2 linked regions of the Homo sapiens genome follow. The protein of the gene in region 1 purifies or fractionates together with the protein of each later gene. This does not show direct contact. Each region holds a gene or a part of one and is shown in the gene's direction. Other genes may lie near its edges.

Region 1 (3,753 bases):
TGTATGTGTGTACTATATGTATGTGTAGAGATGGCTGAAGTGCTGATAGTGCTGATGTTTCACGTCATCAGTGTAAGTCAGCATCTTGTTTTTTATCTCTGCAGAATTTGAACCCACCAAGTGTGTCAAACTTTGTCATTAGCTAGGTACTCAAATCTTTAATTTGATCCTTTAATTGCTGATGGTAGCCATTTGTTAGATTTCTTATGGTGGAGCAGAATTTGTTTTTTTTTTTACTTTCTCATAGAGAATAGTTTTTTTTTTCCCAATAATTTCTATGAAATTATTTTATATATATATATATATATATTCCTTAAGTGGAATAATATATATTATATATATTCCTTAAGTGGAATAATATATATTATTATATATATTCCTTAGGTAGAATATATATATTTCATATATAATTATATAATAAATGTTTAGCTGGGATGTAAATTGAAATCATTTTCTATTTGCAAATCACTTCAAATATATTTGCTATCACAAAGCAAAAAGTTACCATATTTTGTTTAGAATATTCTTATATATATATAGTTTCTTAAGCTCCTGTGAGTAGCAGCCCTAGACATTCAGATTCGGTTGCTCAGTTTGTTTATGATTTAGAAATTAATGGGTTTTTTTTGCATTGTAATATATTCTGAAGAGTCAAGTAAATGATATGTTCTGTTTTGATATCTAGTGATTTTATGTTGAATAATGGTCAGTAGCATGATATTTGTCCCTCTCTTGATTTATTGTTTAGTGGTGGGAAGGACAGCTGCTATAATATGATGCAGTGCATTGCTGCTGGGCATCAGATCGTTGCTTTAGCAAATCTAAGACCAGCTGAAAACCAAGGTAAGTACATGCCTTTATTGGGAAGTTGCCTAAATGAATGAAATTCCAACTTCATAATTACATTGTACAGGTATACCGTACAAAGATGAAAAAAAAAGAACCAATAAATATTAAGCACCCATTAGATGCTAGTTTCCACCTAGAACTTAGCATTAAGTGTTTTCACTTACTTTTTAATTCTCATAACCAACTTCTATAGAGATGCACTATTAATCTTAATAGACAGGGATCCTGAAGCTTAGAGTTTGTCTGAAGTAAACTAGCACAAACTTGTAGAGTTAAGACTTGAACCTTCTTACTTCAAAGTACACTACCATTTTACCCCACCACATTCCCAAGTACTGTAGGCAGCATAGAGGTAGATAAGATACAGTCTCAGGCCTCAAGGAGCTTGAGAAGTAAGACACATATTGATAAATGATATATTAATTTTATTATTAAAAGGATACAGTTTACCTATTTTAGATGTAAGCCAGAAATGTGAGACTTGAGAGAAGCATAAAGCAATGCATTCCCACTTTTCATTTGTCTGTAGTAACAAGGGCATCCACATATAATTCACAGACCTCATATTGACTACTTTTTTCATTCTTTTCTCCAATGAAATATCCCCAATTATAGCTTTTGAAAAAAGAAATATATTCACCAATTTGCTTTTTAATGCTATTGTGTTATACCTATGAAACTACAGATATTAACTGCTAAAATGTAAGAGGGAAAAAAGATTAGCACTTTTGTGACTTTTGTATTACTGCTTCTCACAGGACTTTTCTAGTAAGATCTTTTTATTCTCTCTTTTACTTCTTTCCAGGCTCCATGTTTTTGCACTGTTATTTTAAGATTAATTAAATGAGTGGTGTATGTGAGAACATCAGTCGTAGTTCCTGTCATGAAGTAGGCATTCTGTAAATTTAGCTGAATTGGAATCTAGCTAAATACTTGTTTTATATCTTTAAATGGATTGATTATAAGCTTCTTGAGAAGAGAGATCATATCTTCTATCTTCCTTTTATTGCTCCTCATCACTTGGGCCGGCTCTATGCCTCTGGTAGGAGTTCACGCAAGGTTGATTGGTGGACAGGTGTATAATGAACTAATTTGGATTAGCCCTGGAATAGTGAGCAGTTATTTCAGTCAGATATTTGAATCTTCTTTCCTTCTGTGATTAAGATGTAAGTAATGCTGGATGTCGTGTGGAAAGACAGAGTTTAGAAATATTTTATAGGAAGAAATGGAAAGGTCCCACAGAGAGTCAGAGGTAAATGCACATGTTTGGATTTTGTGCTGCAATTGATGAGTAACAGATGGTTTTTTAGAAGTGATGTTTTTTGAAAGAGTTCCAACTTTAAGAAAGAGAAAATTCTTTGAGGATGAATAGGAACTGCACTCTAACTTCTGTATTATAAAAGAAGAAGCAGAATCTCCTGTTAGGTTTACCAAAAGAGAGAAACTCCCTTATCCCTTGTGGCCAGGGGGAGGCAACTGGGACTTTCAAGCTATCTTGTGAAGTTAAAAAGCAGATGTTTATATAGTATATAATACATACATGGTATATTATAATTTCATCACTGGAGTTTCTATCTTGTTTTCAGCTTTCACATGAATTATTTTACTTACCTAGTACAGAACCATTAATATATAATCTTCCTTGTGTTCATGGTTCACCAGCAGGGTGGTAAAATGACAAGCAAAGTATATTTTTAAATTATACCTCTCAGTAGAATAGAGACACTTATTTAGAATATTGTTAGTGAGAAAAAATTTGATAGTAAATAGAATTAGAATATTCTGAAGTAAAAAGCCTGGAAAAGGCAGTCGAAACAATAGTAATTGTTGTAGAAGAAAACAGATGGCTGTGGGTTGGTAGATGGAGATGGTTTAGCTCATCTTGATGAAAATCAGCAGGACATTGGGAATTATTGAACAATTCACTGAATGACTTATTTTCCTATGAGTGTTATGAAAGAAACCTTAGTGAGGAATGACTGGTAGAGATGACTCCAATGTCCAGCAAAGTTACGGGTTTTCAATGGGTGGTGTGAAAAGGAATTTATTCCCATCAATGAGGATAATGCGAACTTGTCATAAAATTCACAAAACCATCTCTTTAGATTTGTAGTAGGAACTTTTGTGGCATGTTAATTGAGTTGCTTCAGGCAACAGGGGAGCCTTTGGTTTTATTTGATCTCACACTATTGTTGCTCTGTAGCTTCCATTAATCAAAGTTACAATGTGGTTAGGACTAAATAGAGCCTTAAAGAAAATTATCTTCTAGGTTTTTGAAGCCAGTGAGATGTTTTACTTATTATGCTAACATCAGAATGTTTCTTGCCAAGAAGCCCAAATTTCTTTGAGTAAATTGGTTTGATTGTATCAATATCCTTTAAAATGAATGTATTTAAAGATCCAGTCTAATTTTGAGACGAGAGAAGGCCGAAAGGTTTTTAGGTAACTTTGGCTATGTTCTCTACTTCCTACTGGGACCAGGAGTGGAAACATTTATAGTAACAATGTGAGTAATATTCTGAAGGAAGCCAATCTAACAATGTGTGAGTTCAGAAACCTGTCAGCCAAAATGGGGTAGCAGATTTTGATGATTTTGATTGTTGAAGGGGCCCTTGCACTATCACTTTTCATTCCTTTTGATAGGAAGTTTTCACATTTAATGGAAAGCCTGGACCTGTTTGGCTTATATTCATACATACACACATAGGTATATGTCAAAATAACTACTTTGTAATTTTTTTAATAGCATTTTGTGAACATTTTCCATGTCATTAAATATTATTCTACGATAGCATTTCCCATATGTCTTTAGAACACAAATACCCCCATTAAATTTACGTGTTCTGTGGGTAGATAAATTTGAGAGATAGTTCATATTCTCTGCTCTTATTGGAGTACCTGAAA
Region 2 (3,753 bases), about 38 Mb from region 1:
GTGGGTCTTGCTCAGTCTTTATTTTGAGGTAGACGATTTGAATTTGTGTGTGTGTGAGAGAGACAGAGGAGAGAAACGCTCTTATGATCTTGGCTGTCATTTTCTCTTTATTGCGAGGAACGAAGGAGAGAACAGCATGAGCCAGCCACAGGGAATTAGAGGTAGAGGGGGTTTGAAGGGAACAGCTGTTTTTAAAAGAGGTGACAAAAGCAGGCAAGACTTAAAGGCCTGGCCTTGGCAGTAGTCAGTTGAGGGAGAGAGAAAGTTAGTCTGATTTCTTGTTCTGTGGGTTGCCCTGGAGGTAAATGTGAAAAATCATGATAGTCTCTCCTATATAGGGCTAGGCTAGCTTTTTTTACTTCCTTAGGGCATATATGAAAGCAGTTTTCCTGGGATTGGGCTCAACTTGCTCTTCTGTGTTTCCTTTTTCTTCTCACCCTCTGCTACATATCCACACATCCAGTTTTTCCTGCCAGCAAGCTCCTCCTTTTCTCCGGCTGCTAGTCCCAGCTGTCATCTTTGCCTCCCATCCCCCATCCCCAGTTATGCAATTTTACATTACGCTTCTCTTGGGTTTGCTGCCTCCATTTTTAATGCTCTGCCTGCTACCCCCTCCAGCATCAGCTTCTAGTCTCTTCCTCCCTCAAAGCCAGTAACCACTGTTCAGTTTCCCTCTTTATCACTGTTGCTCTGAATGCACTGATATTAATACTTTCCCAAAACTCTTGCAGATCTGGGCCCAGTCACTTAAGATAGTGGGTGGAGACGATGGTGGGGAAGAGGGTGGGGTAGGAGGTTGTCTTACAAAATTTAGGGTTTTTCCAAAATATTGGATGACCCTTGACCTAGAGAGCAAACAGATGCTTCTGTTGGCCTCCCAACTTTAGGCAGTGTGTGCTTTCTTGTTGAAGGTACATATTTGTTTGAAAGCCCTTAGTAATGAAAGGCAGGGCAGTGAGTCAGGCTCTGAACCTCCTGCTGCTGCTGCTGAGAGCCAGTTCTTTTCCTGAATTGAAGCTAATTTTGGATGGATAATAAGGTGGATGGTTGCTAATAACTTTCCCTTGCTAATTGTGATTTCACAGTACTTTGTAAAGAGGGTTCTTTTCTCTTTTCTCTTTTTCTTTTTCTTTTCTTTCTTTTCCATGCTGTTTGGAGGGGGAATAGATCTCTTTTCATGGTTTTTGATGAGTGTTCAGCTATCAAGGAATTCCTTAGTTTGTTTAGAGGCAGCACAGTTTATTGGAAAGAACCCTAGACTAAGCTAAGACCTGCATTCTAGTCCCAGCCCCACTCAGGATTAACTGCCTAAGTGATTTTGGGCAAGTCATAAACCTGTCTCCGCACCTGCCCTATGTATGAACCTTGTGGAACTGTGCGAATGAAATGAGATGTGATGTATGTGGAAGCTCTTTGCAAACTGCGGAGTTTTATAAAACTTTCAGGTGCTGCCCTTTATTAATTTGGCTCCTGACTACAGCATCAGAGAAATTTTTCCAGTGTCTTGTAAATTCCTTCCTTCTCTGAAGCCAGCCTTCTCCAGAGCAGGGCATTGGAATCATCAGAACTAGAGGCAGTCTTGCCTCAGAATCATCTTATCTTTTCACACTGTTCACCCTCCCCCCAGTTGCTTTAAGAACTCTTTGACCCAGTGCTTCTCTATCTCCATTCTCTAGTAAGATTATAATTTTATGGAGTTAGTGATCATAGTATGTTGCACAATTGGTCAAAGGTTCCTGGCTTTTTGTGGCCAGGAATTATTATTAATTAATTTATTAATTAAACTAAGTGGTGACAAAGCATATCTTTAACTTAAGTAACTACAAAAACCTTTTCAGGCCAGTGAGACACATTGACCACAGTTGTGGTAAGTGTTAAGAGACCATGCTTTCACTTTGGATTCCAGGCCAGACTCTTTGTTATTAGCTTGTGACCGTGGGCAAAATATTTAACTTTTTTGGACGTTAGTTTCCACATCTTTAAGAAAAATTATAATGGCACTTATCATAATGAATAAATGAATTTTGAATATGATAATGAATAAAGTGCTTAGCACATTGCCTAAACATATAATGCATACTTAGAAAATGTCACTGTTACTCTATATGTCTAATAATGGTAATAACAATAATGGCCTTCAAAGACCATTGTTGGCATTTTAAAGGGTTTTTTATCTTGTGTTTTAAAAGTTCATTTAAATATACATCCTATAATTTACTAATGCAAAGAACATTTTTGTCTTGGTCCCATTTTCCTTGATACAGGTAGAAAATTGAACTGACTCAGATCAGCATTCCTTACTCTTAGCAGGAAGTCTTGCCCAGGGTGGCATGATCTGGCTGAGTGACTCGCCCAGTTGTGTGCAGTGGGAATCATAGTCAGACTGTTTCTCAGCTACCTGTGACTTGTGTGTTATTAGGACTTGGGGTTACAGTGGAATTGGATGGATTCTTGGTGAAAGGATACTTTCAGGCATCTTTTTTACATTAGCATTGTCAACAGATTGATAAACAGGCTTAAGTCTAAGGCTGCTTTGAAGTACAATACAGAAGAAGGGAAAAAGTACAAAAGAAATCCACTAACAGTTCTAGGGCATAATCGAGTACATAATTACCGCATTTGAGAGGCTGTAACTCCCCAAGTTCACAGATAATGTGATAAGACCATTTGTGATTACCACTTATGGTCAAGAATATGATTAAAACAGAATAATACTTTTACTGCATTTCAGGGATTTACTGATATCCAGTTTTCTCTGGTGATTGAGCCAGTAGTAAAATAAATAAAACCAACTTCCTTTACTTCCCCTCCCTCCCTCCCTTCCTTTTCTTTCTTTCTTTCTTTCTTTTTTTTTTTTTGACGGAGTCTCGCTCTGTCGCCCAGGGCAGAGTACAGTGGCACGATCTTGGCTCACTGCAACCTCCGCCTCCTGGGTTCAAGTGATTCTTCTGTCTCAGCCTCCCGAGTACCTGGGACTACAGGTGAGCACCACCATGCCCAACTAATTTTTGTGTTTATAGTAGAGACGGGGTTTCACCATACTGGCCAGGCTGGTCTTGAACTCCTGACCTCATGATCCTCCCGCCTCAGCCTCCCAAAGTGCTGGAATTACAGGTGTGAACCATCACGCCCGGCCCTCCTTTACTTCTTTGTTTATATTAGCTGGCATTGACTTTGACAGGTGGGCAGGTGGTAGTTTGTGAGACCGAGACATGGCTCCTTGGATACCACTTTATTGGGCAGTGAGCTCAGCTCTTCATGCAGGGGCTTGGGGGCTCCTTTCTGTAATTCTAAAGCTTCTCCTGCATCTGAGAATGACATCTGTTGGGCTTCTTGGGGCCTCTGGTAGATATTTCCTTACAAGGAATGCATGCTGGATCTGAAGAGGTAGTTTAAAATGGCATATTAAAGGCAGAACGTTTAGTCTAAGCCTGTTAATCACTGCATTCCTGTGCTCCCCAGAGTCTGAAAATGTCAGGAATTGAAAGACTAGTATGAATTTGGAGGTCTTGGCCTCTACTTGAGTAAGTATAGTACCTCCATTAATGTTCTTAGTCCATGGTGTGGGGTTATCACCAAAGGCAAATACTGCTATGGATGTAAACAGGAATTTTTCCACTTAGTAACCTCCATTTTCAGCTAGCCCTGTTAACATCCTTGGCTTCTGGACTGTAGGAAAACAGTTCCATTTATTTCATCCTTTCCTCTGGAATGTTCTTAATTTGATGTTGGCAGATCCTGACCTCACTCCCT

The links. The genes of interacting proteins can lie anywhere in the genome.
Region 2: the proteins of DPH6 (region 1) and NPTN purify together in Homo sapiens (co-immunoprecipitation; 2 studies listed by BioGRID and IntAct, with this or other methods). This does not show direct contact.

The regions. Positions count from the first base shown.
Region 1 is NC_000015.10:35,539,503-35,543,255, reverse strand, and holds part of DPH6 (diphthine--ammonia ligase), read left to right. Parts: intron 1-748; coding exon 749-843; intron 844-3,753. UniProt on the Homo sapiens protein: Amidase that may catalyze the last step of diphthamide biosynthesis using ammonium and ATP. Diphthamide biosynthesis consists in the conversion of an L-histidine residue in the translation elongation factor (EEF2) to diphthamide.
Region 2 is NC_000015.10:73,598,717-73,602,469, reverse strand, and holds part of NPTN (neuroplastin isoform b precursor), read left to right. Parts: intron 1-3,753. UniProt on the Homo sapiens protein: Probable homophilic and heterophilic cell adhesion molecule involved in long term potentiation at hippocampal excitatory synapses through activation of p38MAPK. May also regulate neurite outgrowth by activating the FGFR1 signaling pathway.